Linked DNA regions of Homo sapiens: region 2 is linked to region 1. Evidence: fine-mapped expression QTL. Tissue or cell type: whole blood. Region 1 holds a variant in brackets; the other region holds the start of a gene. All regions are shown on one strand. Distances are between the middles of the regions.

Region 1 (8,106 bases):
AAAGAAGTCCAGAAAGAAGGAAGGGAGGGAAAGAAGAAACTGTCAAATAAACCACGGATATGGTCTCCAAATGGAAAGGGCCCATTTGGGGCCCAACACATGAATGAAAAACTCTTACCAACCAACATCATTGTGAAATTTCAGAACACCTGAATGGTTGAAGGGAGGATCACCCCATTTAATACTACAGTCTGCATCCCCTACCTCTCCTTTCCCCAACATTCCTGAACTTCCCACCCCAGCCTGCTCTTTTTTCTCTTTTCTAAAGCAGTTATTTACTTTACAAACTCCCAATGTTTTGTATAATTTATTTATTATATTTGCTGTTGAACAACTCCTCCCTCCCTGAATTTAAGCTCTATAAGGACATGAATCTTGTATTTTTGTTCACCTATATATTCAAAATGTCTTGACCAGTGCCCGGCACATAAAATGTGCTCAATACATACTTGCTGAATAAATATAAACGCTTCCAAAGAGATATAACAGGTCACAATCAAAGGATTGGTTATCATAAATGTGAGGGTTAAATAAAAAAATGGTTGACCATGCAAGAACCCAAAATATGTGCATCCCATTCTGTCTCTCTCAGGAAGCTACTCAAAAACATACTCTGCCAATATAAGGGAGACACCAAGAAAAAGGAAAACCTGAAATCCAAGAAAAAGAGGCTACCCACACAGAAGAGACAAATGCAATTCACAGATGACTGTAAAAGGGCAGTCCAGGAAGAGAGTTGTGCAACAGGCCTAGAGAGCAACCCATCAAGATGGAGGCAGGAAAGATGTCGCAAAACAGATTATCAGATGTGTTTGAATCTACTAAGAGGAGACTGATGTATCTGGTTCAAGAGATTAATAGATCAAATAAAGAATACAAAAGACACATTAAAAAGATATAAAACATTTATTTATAAAGAAATATAAAAGGTACATGTACAAAAGAATTAAGATATTAACTAGGAAAAACAAAAATTATACAAGAAAGGAAATAACCTCACACTTACCTTGTTCAGCTACATACAATATTTACATAGTTAAAATGAGGTAAACACCAAATAACTAAAAGTTAACATGTAACTAATTTGGGAATATAGAGGGGAGAGGGGAAGTGAAATGCAGTGTTTAAAGGTAGGAGTTGGTACAAAAAACCTAAACTCCCATCTTCTGTAATAGGAAATGAGTAAACTATACTTCAAATCGCATTAGGATGGGAATGGGGAGGGGATATCGCCATATATCTAAATATGTCATTTTAAAAAACTGGAAGTGATAAGGAATTGAAGTCACTGACTCTGGAGCAGCCTTTCTCAATTAAGGTTCGGCGAGAGAATTAATCTTTAATGCCCTAAGGCTTCCATTTTATGTAATAAACTAACTTCTCTCCTATGCATCCATCATATTATTAGCTACCTACCCTCTTTGGGAGAATTAAGAAAATAGTTGCTCAAATCATTTTTCTTGTTCAGTGATTCAGACAGAAAGCACTGATTGAGAAAGACTGCTTCTGGAGAGTGGGATTCAGGGGTGAGAAGGACTGGGGCAGAAGATTGTTGTTTTTCTCTTTTTTTTTTCTTTTTTTTTTTTTTGAGATGAAGTTTTGATCTTGTTGCCCAAGCTGGAGTGCAATATCGCGATCTCAGCTCACTGCAACCTCCGCCTCCCAGGTTCAAGCGATTCTCCTGCCTCAGCCTCCCAAGTAGCTGGGATTACAGGCATGCGCCACCATGCCTGGCTAATTTTGTATTTTTAGTAGAGATGGGGTTTCTCCATATTGGTCAGGCTGGTCTCGAACTCCCGACCTCAGGTGATCCTCCTGCCTCAGCCTCCCAAAGTGCTGGGATTACAGGCATGAGCCACCGCACCCAGCCCTCTCTTCTTTTTTGAGACAGGGTCTCACTCTGTTGCGCAAGTTGGACTGCAGTGGCACGATATTAGCTCACTATAGCCTCCACGTGCTGGGCTCAAGCGATCCTCCCACCTCAGCCTTCCAAGTAAATGGAACAACAGGTGTGTGCCCCACAACCCAGCTAATTTTGTTTATTTTTTGTGGAGACAAGGTCTCACTATGTTGCCCAGAATGGTCTCAAACTCCTGGGCTGATGTGATCCTCTTGCCTCAGCCTCCCAAAGTGCTGGGATTACAGGCGTGAGCCACCACACCCAGACAGTTTTTCATTATAATCCTTGAAGTACTATTTGACTGTTTATGTACAGGTATCCCTTCGATAAATATAAACATTAAATTTAAAATAAACATAATAGTAAAAAGTAGTAGTAACGGAACTCTGAATACAGGATGTATTTAACAAATTAAGCACAGAAACTGAAAGGTCTAGAAATAGTTTCTTATTAGCAAAAGCCAGAGAATTTTTTAGAAATAAATTATGGAATTCATTAAATAACATATATTTACAAAACATTCCTATCTATATAGCAATGCTCTACTAAGCATTATGTAATTTCAGGTGCCAAGAAAGATATAAAAAAAGATAATATAATTTGTAAAAGGTATGATATGACAATGTAAATACGGTATACTGAAATGTTTTAACATGAAATCTCATTAAGCTGTGTATATTTCCCATTTCAATCAATCAGTATGTACTTTTTGTGCCAATAATCTACCATATTCAGTATAAGACATAAAAGAAATATAAGATATACTCCCTTTTAAAATAGGTTTATTTATGTATACATATAACTTATTTTAGGTAGTATTTTTACTCACTTGGCTATTTATATATTTTTAAATTTAAGAAAAAATCTTCGTAATATTTACAATAAAATGGTTTTTAAAAATCTCTTCATGATTACAAAAATTGGCAGTAACATGGAAGATTAACCAGAAAACCAACAAAACCAACAGTAAGGAGACACCTAAAATGGTTAAGGTAAGAGATGAAGGCCTGAGCTGAGATAATGCAGTGGAGAAAAAAAGGAAATACATATAAAGGTGGCTAAAATGAGCCAGGCATGGTGATGCCCGCCTGTGGTCTCAGCTACTCCAGAGCCTGAGGTGGGAGGATTAGCTTGAGCCCAGGAATTTGAGACCAGCCTGGACAACAGAGTGAGATCCTGTCTCAAATAAAAATAATAAAATGAAATAAAAGTGGCAAAATAATGAGAAGTTTTGGAGACCGAAAGCAAGGGAGAAAGCTGGATTAGTGCCAGGTTTCCACCATGAGTGGCTAGGGTAGATGGTGGTGCCACTGACCATGACAGGCAATACAAAGAGGAGCAGGATTAAGGGAAAACATGAGTTCACGTTTGGACTGTTTGAAGTACCTTGAGAACATCCTGGGAGAGATATCCAAAAGGCAGCTGAATATAAGAATCTGGAATGCAGGAGAGAAGTCTGAGATAGATAAAGATTTGGGAACTGGCAACACACAGCTGTTAATGGATGAGATCACCTAGGAAGAGAATATATTTAGAAGAGGACAAGAGCCTGCCATCAGATAACTAAAGATCACAACTCATGTTCCTAAAACCACTCAGGATAAAACTTTGCCCAGTTATATGTACTTCAGTAGAAAAATATCCAATATATAATGTTAAATGAAAGAAAATCAAATCACAAAACTTTATGCATAGTGCAAACCTATTTTTACAAATAAGTTGTAAAAAAAATTAACAAATGCATAGTAAAAAAATATGAAGGAACAAACATTAATGATGTTAGTAATACTATAAATCTAGGAATGGGATTATGTAAGCCTTTCAGAGCTACATGATATGTCTTCATACTATTTTACTTTTTTTTTATAAGCATATACTTGGCCAGCGTGGTGGCTCATGCCTGTAATCCCAGCACTTTGGGAGGCTGAGGTGGGCAGATCACAAGGTCAAGAGATCGAGATCATCCTGGCCAACATGGTGAAACCCTGTCTCTACTAAAAATACAAAAAAAAAAAAAAAAAAAAA[T/AAT]TAGCTGGGCGTGGTGGCACGTGCCTGTAGCCCCAGCTACTTGGGAGGCTAAAGCAGGAGAATCGCTTGAACCCCAGGAGGCGGAGGTTGCAGTGAGCCGAGATGGTGCCACTGCACTCCAGCCTGGCGACACAGCGAGACTCCATCTCAAAAAACTAAATCAATAAAAATAAAATAAATTTAAAAAAAAAAGGCATGTGCTCTTGTAAACCGAGAAAACATAATTTTGTTGTTTTCCTTTAAAAAAAAGTACAGCACGTTTCCTAAGGTCGGGTGAGGTGGCTCGTACCTGCAATCCCAGCACTTTGGGAGGCCGAGGCAGGCGGATCACAAGGTCAGGAGATCGAGACCATCCTGGCCAACATGGTGAAACCCTGTCTCTACTAAACTACAAAAATTAGCTGGGCATGGGGGCGCGTGCCTGTAGTCCCAGCTACTCAGGAGGCTGAGGCAGGAGAATCCCTTGAACCCGGGAGGCAGAGGTTACAGTGAGCCGAGATCACGCCACTGCACTCCAGCCTGGCGAAAGAGCGAGACTCTGTCTTAAAAAACAAACAAACAAAGTACAGCACGTTTCCTTACAATATATTTAAGAAGATAAAAATGTGTTAGAAAAACACTTGGATACTGGACTATAAACGAGCAAATAACATCAACAGACAACTAGTAAGATTATGAAAATTATTCAGTGCACTATCAAAGTAATGAGAATTAGAACATATACCATTTATTGCCTGCTAAATTGAAACAATTTTTTAAAATAATAAAAGTACTCGATGTTGGTAAGGGTGTGATTTTTTTTTTTAAAGCATGTCAGACACTGCTGACAGGAAACAAACTGGTACTATCTCCCATGAAAACAATGTGACAATATGTACCAATAGCCTGAGAAAGATTCCTAATATTTGATCTAACAATTATCTTTTTAGAAATTTTAGAAAAGAATCCATGTGTTAAAGCTCTCTTAAAATGTATCTGGCAGTTGTCTGGTTTTTACTGGACTCCCCCCAGCCCCCTCAAAAAGAAAATAATTCAAAACAACTAAAAACATGCAAAGATATTTCACCAAATCATTAGTTGAAACAATCTAAACACCAACATTAGTGCACAAAAGCAAATTATACAGGCATCAAAAGTAATGTGTTTAACAAACTTAAAAAAAAGCAAAACTCTATGACCTAGCAATTCTACTTACAGAAAAAACACTAGCACGCATACACCAGAAAACATCACAAAGAACTTTCACTGTTGCAAGGGTTGTAACAGTGTAAAATTTTAAACAACCTAACAGCCCACCAATCCAAAAATGGTTAAATCAGCTTTCTCAAACTGTGGTCTCAGGACCCCTGGATGTCCCCAGGAGCCTTTCAGCAGGCTTGTAAGATCCTCGCTTTTCCTGCTACGTATCTGTTCAAGGCTGGTGTTTTCTTCATATGCTTCAACCTAAACCAGATAGCACAACAGACTGAACAGAAGCAAACATGAAAATCCAGCTGTCTTCTATAATGCCAGACATTAAAGTGATTCGCAAAAATTTGAAACAATGCCACGCTCCTCTTCTAAGTTTTGTTTTAGAAAATGGTTACTTTTCACTAAAAAATTATTTAATACATGAGTCTGTGATTTTTAAATGAATAAAACATTTTCAATTTTCTGAGTTTTAATTTCCAAAATGGTAAATATACTGCAGCATTAGGAACCAAAAACTCTATTGGTCCTCAATAATTTTTAAGCGTAATTATCCCCAATCATAATGTTAAATGAACTGTAGCACTATTCTATCATGTAACATTATGATTGAGGATAATTAATGCGGATTTGGCTTTATCTGTAATATAACTGTTTCAAAAGATACTTTGCTCATGTATAATCAAGAAGTCATTTTTATGAAGCTTTTTAAAAACATGGGGAAATGCTTACAACGTAATTTAAATCAAGGAAAGCAGACAATCCAACGATATAAAATCTCATCTCAAGAAAATGCACAGGGGAAAAAAAGACTCAAAGGAAAAAAGTCAAAATATTATAAGTAATTGATTACTATTACATGGTGGAATTATGATTGATCATTTTTCCTTATTCTTTATTCTATTTTTTCAATTTTTGCCACTAAGCATGCGGTTTAATATCCAGGAGAGGAAAAAAAGGAAGAAATTAGGCGAAAAATTATATATAGTTCTACTGGATTAAACCATTAAACTCCCGCCAACTCAAGAGACGACAAGCTCAAGTGAATAAATGGAGGAATCTGATTGAATCAACAAAGTGCCTATTTTTTGAATTGAAAAGATTAACTTAATATCAAATGTATGGACTGGTTTTCATACAAGTCAAACTAATAAGAAAGAACATCCTTAGTCTGGAACATAATATTTGCAATCACGATAGTACAAATAAGAGTTAAAAATAAGGTCCTCTTTTGGAGTTCTCAAAAGTACCAAAGGAAAGGCAGCGGGAAAGACGGCCACTGCATCCTTCTGGTCTCTAACCAAGAGAAAATGCATGGGTGCGGGAATGGACAGTGCGAGAGCACCGGCGGCGATGAGACTCCTCTGCGGGGACCGAGCCTCTGCCACTCCTGAAGAACCACAGTCCCCTCCGCAGTCGCAGCCCCTCCCCAGGCGGGACGGCGGCGCCAGGGCGCTTCTCCCTCCGTCCGCTGGGGTCTCTCCCCCAGGAGCGCCGAACACTCCGGCGGCCCGGGAGCGGGGAACCGGGCAAACAGCCGCCGTGATTGCCCTCCCGGTCCAGTCCGGTCTGGCCCTTCAGGCTCCAGGAGGGGACATCAGATTGGAGGGCCAGGGTTCCCCGGCCAGCTCCGGGGGCTCGGAAAAGGAATCGGTCGGGGCCCAGGCTCTGTCCCCAGAGGAAGAGGGCCAGACCCAGCGCCCAGGTCGGCGGGTCCAGCGGTCACCCCGCCCCCCTGTGGGAACAGCAGGGCTGAGGGGAGGCCGAGACGACCGGTCACGGGGGGCTCTTACCTCCCTACAGCCCCTGCGGAGCTTTTTGGGAACTCGACACGACGTCGCGCTGAGGAGTGAAGAGCTACCCCGGCCGGGAGTCCTGGGAGTGCCAGATCCCGGCTCAGGGCTTCTTTCCCCGCCCCACCGGGCAGCGCAGAGAGCGCAGGCGCAGAGGACGCTTTCCTCTTCGGCTCACACGCCCCCTCCCTCGGCATCCGCGGCCGTCTCCAGGCCCGGGGCGCTTGCGCACTACGACGCAGGTTCCGAGCCAAGGGCACTAGATTTCTTACCGGAAGTGCCTGAGTGGGTTGTTGGGTGACGGGGACGCCTGATGATTCGACCTTAGGTCGGGACTCGGTTCTCCACTCGACTGCGGGATCGGGAGGCCACTCGCGTCAGTGTCTGACTTCCTTTACCCTTCGCTAACCTAGAGGCAGCTTCCCCGGCTCCAGCCTTAGCCCTTTGCTGAGCCTGCGCGGCGTTCCGGTCTCTACTGGACAGACCCGCCTTCCCGGCAGCGGGCTAGGCCTGCTCTCCGCGCTGCTGGCCCCTCGGAAAACATAACTTTTTGTTTACTTCAAACTGATTTTACAACACGCTGCCCCCCCGCCTCCCCCGCTTCCCCCGCTTCCCCTTCCTCCTCCCGGCAGCAATAAAAATGCTCCCAGCCAACGCCGAGCTCCAAGCCCCTCCAGCTGACTGGACATTCCCAGCCACACTTTCCTTCCCTTCGCTGCGTTAGTTCTGCATTTTTATTTTAAAGCAGCTGGTAGAACAGCTGTCTCCCTGTCTAAAAGCAAAAGCTGACTTATCTGATGTAGAAATAAAATGTCACTCACTTGATGTATATTTGCTTGTTGAGTTTTGCTATTTTTACCACAAGTTTCCTATAAATTTAAATGAGACCCGGCGCGGTGGCTCACGCCTGTCATCCCAGCACTTTGGGAGGCCGAGGCGGGAGGATCGCTTGAAGTCAAGAGTTCCAGACAGGCCTGGGCAACATAGCAAGACCCTGTCTCTACTAAAAATGAAAATGAAAAAATTAGCCAGGCGTGTTGGCGCGTGCCTGTAGTCCCAGCTACTGGCTGGGAGTCTGAAGTGGGAGGATCACTTAAGCCCAGGAGGTCAAGGCTGCAGTGAGCTCTGATGGCAACACTGCATTCCAGCCTGAGCAACAGAACCAGACCGTGTCTCTAAAAAAATAAAAAATAAAAACAA
Region 2 (8,106 bases), 160 kb before region 1:
AGCTAATTTTTTGTATTTTTCTTTTTTAATAGAGATGGGGTTTCACCACGTTGGCCAGGCTGGTCTCGAACTCCCGACTTCAGATGATCCACCCACTTTGGCCTCCCAAAGTGCTGGGATTACAGGCATGAGCCACCACGCCTGGCCCAAGCATCTACTTCTACTTGTTTCTAAAATATATTTTTTGATGGCATAAAACCATGAGGACAGGGAGTCTCACATTCCAGAGAATCCCAGTCTATCACTCACAAAGTAGGATGTATCCAATTTGGTTTGAATGGCTTGGGTCGGTTCTGGGTCCTCAGCTTCCATGACCTCAGGTCGTAGTGAATCTACACTCCAGGGAGGTGGAGCCACACAAAGGACAGCGGGAAGAGCTGGGAGCTTCCTTCTGTTCCTGTTTCCTCTCCTGAGGCTTCTTAGGTGAATCATGGAGCTTTGCTCCCTGGCAGTCCCTTTGCTAAAATGAGGATAAAAACATCTGTCCTCTCTCCTTCAGGGGTGTAGTTGCTGGACTAAACTGAGATCAGAAGTAGGTATAATCTAGAAATTCTCATTCTCAGACTTTGAATGTTAAAATCATCTCCCTTTAACATTCAGATTACAACGATGGCATGGACTGGCCTGCCCAGGTTACCAGATGAGCTTTGTAGTCTAATCCAGACCTCCCCTTAACTCTCCTGCTGTGGAAGTCAGTCCTCATAATTCCACCATTGTGGCATGTGATGCGACACTGTCCACTGACCACAGGGCCTTTCCCACTGTAAAATGTGATGTGTTCACCACTGTTTAACTGCTGTTACCAACTCCCACGAAGGAGGATCTGCCTTCTCTAACATGTCACTCAGCATGGGTGCCCCCAGGCACAAATCACGTAGTGCCAGCAGGTTGGTGGTGGCTAGAAGTGGTGTTCCAGCATCAGCCCTCCTCTCCTGCCCACCAGTCCTGGCACAGCACCCAGGTCAACAGTAAAAATCCTACAGGTAAATTGTATCTGGGATACAATGTAAATTGTAAATTCATTATCCTCTGTTTATTCAGTCCATCCTCCATTCATGCAACATGTTCCAATATCCTGCTGATAGGTGTGGTGGGTTGAGTAATGAACCGCCATAGAGTTTAATGTCCTAATCTCTAGAATCTATGAATATGTTACCCTACAGGCCAAATTAATTTTGCAGCTGTGATTAAATGAAGGATTTTGAAATGGAAGATCATCCAAGTGGGTCCAGTGTCATCACAAAGGTCCTCCAGAGTGAGGCAGGAGAGTCAGAGGGAGAGAAGGAAGCAGAGGGAGAGAGAGACATGTAACAACAGAAGCGTGGCAGTGGGGAGAGGAGGGCAGGGAGGGAGAGAGAGGGAGAGACAGATATTGAAGATGGAGGAAGGGGCCACCAGCCAAAGAATGCAGATGGCCTCTAAAAGCTAGAAAGGGCAAGGAAACAGATTGTCCCCTGGAACCCCCAAAAGTAATGCAATCTTGCTGAGACTCTGGTTTTAACCACATAAAATTCAACTTGGACTTCTGACCTCCCGAACTGTAAGAGGATAAATCTGTGTTCTTTAAGCCACAATAAGTTCGTGGTGATTTTGTTTGTGGTAACAAGCAGCAATAGAAAACTAATAAAGTAGAAGTGAAAATTGGATCATCTGCTTTGAAAAGCTGTTTGGTGGCATCTCCAGAAGCTGAACATATGCCTACATCATGACTCACAATTCCACTCCTAGGTATGTACCCAACAGAAATAAGTATATATGGTCACCAAAAGACATCTATTTTAATGTTCATAGCAGCATTATTTGTAATGTCCCAAACCTGAGAATTACCCAAATGTCTATCAGTAGTAAAATGAATAAGCAATTGAGGCACAATCACAAAACGGAATACTATACAGCAAAAAGAATAAACAGACTACAGCCACACACAGTATGCATCTCTTAATCATACTATTAGTGAAAGAGGCCAGTCAACAGAGTGATTCAATCACTATAAAGTACAAAAAGAAACAAAACTACTCTATGCTGTTTGAAGCCACCACTCCCTCCAATGAGAAATCTGAAGAGGGAGTGTTGTGAGGGTACTGGTAATGTTCTGCTTCTTGATCTGGATGATGCTCATTTTGTGCAAAATCATCGGACTTGTGAAATGTGTGTCTTTTTTTTTGAGATGAAGTCTGGCCCTGTGGCCCAGGCTGGAGTGCAGTGGCACTATCTCGGCTCACTGCAGTTGCTGCCTCCTGGGTTCAAGTGATTCTCCTGCCCAAGCCTCCCCAGTAGCTGGGATTACAGGCATAAACCACAACACCTGGCTAATTTTTGTATTTTTGTAGAGATGGGGTTTCATCACGTTGGCCAGGCTGGTCTTGAACTCCTGACCTGGAAGTGATTCACCCTCCTTGGCCTCCCAAAGTGCTGGGATTACAGGCATGAGCCACAGCACTCAGCCAAAATATTTGCCTTTTAATAGGTACACTGCACATTGATGAAATTTTTTTAAGAGAACAGTCGGAGGTGGTAAGGGGGAGGAGCCCCGTGCCTTCATGCAAATTGGCTCAGTCTTCCTGGTAACCTCCAAACAAACAGCTGTAGGCAAAGGGCAGCCCAGATATAGGATTCAAACTCCCTAGAGCCTAACTTTGGGGTAAAGCACCCTGTGCAATTGCTTTGCATATGTTTACTAAATGAGGACCCTTTAGGTCCTCATTTCGGAGAGATCTTTTCTTTAATAAAGGAAGCCTGACCAGAGATAAATCTACTTTTCCCGAGAACTCAAAACTATAAACAAGTTTTGATTGACATTATCTGAATAACAAAAATAGTGATGGCCTTTCTCCACCAGACCCTCCAAGATAAATGAAGAGTTAAAAACTTTGCTTCTGGCCGGGCGTTGTGGCTCACACCTGTAATCCCGGCACTTTGGGAGGCCGAGGTGGGTGGATCACTTGAGGTCAGGAGTTCGAGACCAGCCTGGGCAACATGGTGAAACCCCATCTCTACTAAAAATACAAAAATTGGCCAGGCGTGATGGTGCACACCTGTCATCCCTGCTACTCCAGAGGCTGGCTCATGAGAATCGGTTGAACCCAGGAGGCAGAGGTTGCAGTGAGCCGAGATCACACCACTGCACTCCAGCCTGGGTGACAGAATGAGACTCCGTCTCAAAAAAACCAAAAACTAAAAACGACAGAAAAAGTTGCTTCTGCTTCATTTCCTTTTCATCTCTCAGTAGAGTTTAACATATGAAATGTATTTTTCGAAATTTTGTTAATATGTTTATTCATGTTTTAATAATAGCATAATAACCTTATAAATTCCTAAAGACGTAAATAAGAACGGTTGTTCCCACTAACACCCCAACCTGAAGTGTGGCTCTGGCTTTACCTGAAGTGGGTACAGGGATGCGGAGGGGTGGAAGGACCGGTGGGGACAGATGGACCCATGAACCAGCGGGTGGATGTGAGCTGAGGGGAGGGATACGGACTGGAGGAGCCAAAGCCCGTGACGTAGGGGTGCGTGCTTCCCTCAATGGGGAGACCCTGCTGCCGCTGTTGTTGGCCAAGTCGCCGTGGCCGAAGCGCGGTGGCCGAAGCGGGGGACGGGGGTGGGACTTACGGGGACAGAAGGCGGAGCTTCCAGCAGCTGCTGGCCCCCCTGGGTCCAGAGGAGCCTTGCCGCCCTCACCTGCGCAGAGCCTGGAGCCGACGCGTCACCCCCAGCGGAAGCGCCTCGCTGCCCGGGCGTCTGGCGAGGTGTGCGCTCCGGGTCCCAGCTCCAGCGCTTCGCGGCAGTCGCCCGCCTCTTTCCGCAAGCAGGGCGGGGACTGGGCGGCATCTACCGAGATCTGCGATTCGAGGCGCCGAGGAGCCGAAGACCACAGCTCAGCTCAGACGGCGCCCTAGGGCCGCACAGAGGGTCGGGCAGTGCCGGAGAGAGGTTTGAAAGCGCCGCCGCCAACTCGACAGCGCGTCCCAGGTCAGTGTGAGGCGCCGTCCCTGCCGGCTGCACTTGGGAAACTTTGGCTTGCAGTGGCGGCTGCCGGGAGGAGGACATCGAGGGCGCAGCGTGGAACCCAGCGGCCCGCACGGCCTCAGTGCTCCCTGCCCGGTGCGCGCAAGCCCCTGAAGCCCGCACCTCCCGCTCACCCTGACATTGCAGTGCCCCGAGCAGGATGAGAGACCCAGGGCCAGCCGAGGGCCGCCGGGCTGCAGGGGCCTCCCGAGAGACTCTGCCCCGCCACCCCGGGGCGCGCTCCACGCGAGCTCACCCTCGCGCCTCCTGCCTTTCCCACTGGTTCTCGGTTCCAGTTTTGCGGCCGCTGGGGCTTGGACTCCGCGGGGATGCGGGTTCCGCCTCCTTCTCAGCCTCGCCGAGCGGCGGGAACCGGCGAGGGCTGCCCGGCCGCGGGGTGTCGAGGAGGATGCGGGGCGGGGGGCCTGATGGGCGAAGGTCGGCGCAGCAGCGGGAGCGGCGCGCGCTGGGCCGCAAGAGCGCGCGGGTCGGAGGGGCTGACTTGGGCGCGTCTCCGGAGGGGCTGACTTGGGCGCGTCTCCGCAGGTGCCTCGGCAGCTGGGCAGCAGGAGGTGCCGGCTGGGCGCTGGGGGCGGGCTGGGGACTGCGGAGCCCTTTGCAGCTTCCAGGAGCTCCTGCTTCCAGGAGCCACACAGGGGCGGGCAGCCGGTTCCCGCCCTTCTCAGGTGCGCACAGCCTTGGCACCAGGATACCGGACCCCCTTAGCAGAGAGCCGGGTGCAGAGGTGCGCCTGCTCCGGGATGGGGGCAGTGGCTGCGCCCCTCAGACGCACCATTTCCCAAGGGAGGGCCGCGTCCGGCCGGCGGGCGAGCGGCGCAGGGACCGCTCCGCAGCGGCTGTGGGCAGAACCCGTTTTCATGGATGGTGATCGCCTTAGCCCGCCAGCTGCCTGCCCTGGCTCAGAGATGAGGCGACGAAACGCGCACCCCGCCCCCATCGGTGCCCTGGAGCTGTCGCCCCAGTCACCTTCCTTTGCCCTTCTCCGACAGCGCCTTGAGCTCGCTTCCTCCTGCTCTCAGGAAAAACTGAGGAAACGCGCCTGGTTCCAGGGGTCGGCGGGGACCGTGGAGACGCTGCCAGCATCCTCAACAGCTTGGAAATCCCATCACCTTGGTTCCCTGAGACTTGGAGGACTAGGTTGGCCTCTCTCTCTCTCTCTCTCTCTCTCTCTGTGTGTGTGTGTGTGTGTGTGTGTGTGTGTGTGTGTTTTGGGGGGAGGTGAATCAGTAACAGAGGTTGGGGCATAGATGCCCCAAAGGCCTGGGGGACAGCCGAAGTAACTAGGAGAACACGGCAGCCCTTTGCGGGTATGTGTGGGAAACACAGCAAACCTTACCAGCTACGCGTCTCCTTGGACAGTTTCTAAATATTTCTTGCAAGTCAATACCAGGGAAGAATCTTTTTCTGGCCAGTCATTCCATTTTCCAGGACGACCTCAGATGCATCTTTTATTCTGTCTCTGCCCCTTTCCTTGGGTGGGAGGAGGTACACATTTGCTTGTGGCAAGCAGGCTTGCCTTATTCCAGTGTAGCTGGCCTCCCTCCTGGCCTTCGGCTGCCCACTAGGGCTCTGGGTTTTTTCAAACCCGTCTAGGAAAGGCAGGGCAGCAAACCTCCAGCTCCTGGCCCATTCTACTAATTCAAGGCTGTCCTCTTCTCTGGGACCTGTGAGCTCCCTGGACCCGTCTCTAGGCTGTGGCAGCCATCTATCTCTGCCTTTCACTCCTGCAGGGGAGCCGAGCATCGCACCACTTGGAAGTAATGTCGGAGACAGCTCTGTGTGAATCTGAGGCAGGGGTCCATAGCAAACAGGAAGTGGCCTGGAATGAGGAATGAAGAGTTTGCCTCAGATTTTCTCCAAGTGTGCATTAGAAGCACCTCCCATGGAATATGTGGGAGTGGAGCCTAGAATTTTCTTTTTAACAGGCACTCCATGTGTTTCTTATGCCCACAAAAGAAGAACCCATTGGTATAGGGAACTTAGCATCCCATCGTCAGACCCCATCAGTCCTGAGGATTCCTGTATGCAGTGCCTGTATTTGGTGATGCATGTTTGTAAATGGACATTTATTGAATTCGTAAGTAGCAAGTATGTTCGGATCTTTTAAAATCCTCACAATCATCTACTGTAAAGTAGATATTATCCCCATTTCAGGGGTGAGGAAACTAAGGCTCAGAAGAATGACCTCCCAGAGGTTGATAACTTGGAGAGATCCGGAGCCCAGGTCCCTGATACGCACCCTGCTGCCTCATCTGAGCAGTCTTTAATCCCCTTTGGGGCAGCACATAGGCAGGGACTGGGGCAAGGGCGACGGGCTGAATTTTGAGTTCAAACCCATTTGTTAAGTTCTTCCCCACCATGGCCAGATGATGAACTTTATGAGAGGAAGCGTGGATCCTATTTGGAGGTAGAGTGAAAGGCTCAAAAGAAAATAACTTTTCCTTCTTTTCTTTTCTTTTCTTTTTTTTTTTTTTTGAGACGGAGTCTTGCTTTTGTCACCCGGGCTGGAGTGCAGTGGTGCAATCTCGGCTCACTGCAACCTCCGCCTCCCGAGTTCAAGTGATTCTCCTGCCTCAGCCTCCTGAGTAGCTGGGATTACAGGCACCCGCCACAATGCCCGGCTAATTTTTGTATTTGTAGTAGAGATGGAGTTTCACCATGCTGTCCAGGCTGGTCTCAAACTCTTGACCTCAGTTGATCCGCTCCCCCTCGGCCTCCCAAAGTGCTGGGATTACAGGCATGAGCCACCATGCCCGGCCACTTTTCTGCCTTAATGAAAGGAAAACTGGGGGTGGCATGGGGACAAAAAGCCACAGGAAAGGCCTGGCCTATCGTCTCCAAGATGGCTTTGCAAGCACCTCAGCTCATGCAGCACTGCCATGTGAGATAACACACAAATCAGGCCCTCAAAACAGTCCTACTCCGTGCGAAGCTCATCCAAGAAGCAAGGTGATATTGAGATAAAGGACACAAACATGTAATTGACCTCTGGCAAACAGGTGAGTAAGATGATTGGCTTTGGGAGAGTGCCCTCACCTTTCCTTTCTCAGCCTCCTGATCTGCACCAAGTGAGTGCCGAGGCCCTTCCAACCCCAGCAGTCCTCGCATGGCAGACTCAGCCCTGCAGGCAGACACACACGGGGTTGCTGTGCATAGAATCTCCAGACACTTTACAAACTCATAATCAGTGAGATATGACTAACTGAGCAAACATTGGGGGATTTCTTAATAAGGAATTTAAAAACTAGACTCCAAATGGGAAAGATGCATGTAACAAATTATTGGTGTTTATGTAACTCTGAATAGCTTTGATTTCCTTCAGTAGGAACTGACAGCTGGCTGACAGAAAACTTATCCAGGGAGAGAAGAGACAAAAGTGAAGTGTGAAATTTTGAATAATGTTTTCAGGTAAGTTTCTATTTCCATTTAGAGTGGGTGTCTGGAAGGGTGAATGCAGTTATGGTTTGAATTTCTTTCATGTATCGACAGATATTTTTAATAGGGCTCATCTTTCCAAGATGCAATGTGTCTTACTTCCTTTTCCTGGCTTCCAGTCCCCTCGTAGCAGGGCAAGGAGCTGGGGACTTCAACGTTTGGCCTGCACATGCTCACTGAATCCCTGTTTTCAGCAAGCTGCCTCTAAGTTTGGAGCCTTTCTGATCAATTTAGAAAATAAATCTTCATTTTCTTGCCTAGGAAAGTGGTTGTCTGATTCCTGGGGTGGGATAGAATATGTAGGGGTCCAGTCGTTCTGTTCACAGACTTTCAATCATCTTCTTGTTCTAAGCCCTGATACTCATTGCCATTTTCTATGGCACTTGGGACCTCTAAGTCCTAAATGTCACAGGTCCTGTGGGTAAGCAGCCTCCCTGGGTCTATGTCCTGCAGCCTCCTCTGCTATGCTAAGGCCATTTGCCACTCCACCATCCCCCCATTTCCAGAGCTTGTTTGAAATTGCTCATCTAATGGTATCTCTCCTCCAATTTTCTTTGTTCTTAAAAATACACATATTTAAAATATTTTTTAAAAATAACTCAGTGCTTATTATTTTGGTGGCATCTTGGGCATAGAGGGAGG

The links. PIP is the estimated chance that this variant, and not a neighbour inherited with it, causes the effect.
Region 2: it holds the start of ANKRD34B, and the variant in region 1 is fine-mapped to the expression of ANKRD34B in whole blood (INTERVAL, PIP above 0.99).

The regions. Positions count from the first base shown.
Region 1 is chr5:80,406,954-80,415,059 of GRCh38, reverse strand. It overlaps ZFYVE16 (zinc finger FYVE-type containing 16), which reads right to left and starts at 6,996. Exons shown (of 19, transcript NM_001284236.3): 1 at 6,907-6,996. RefSeq lists a silencer at 6,396-6,515 and an enhancer at 6,236-7,034. The variant T/AAT (reference allele first, on the strand shown) is at 3,926.
Region 2 is chr5:80,566,020-80,574,125 of GRCh38, reverse strand. ANKRD34B (ankyrin repeat domain 34B) reads left to right here and starts at 3,846. Exons shown (of 5, transcript NM_001004441.3): 1 at 3,846-3,972; 2 at 5,019-5,166; 3 at 7,352-7,437.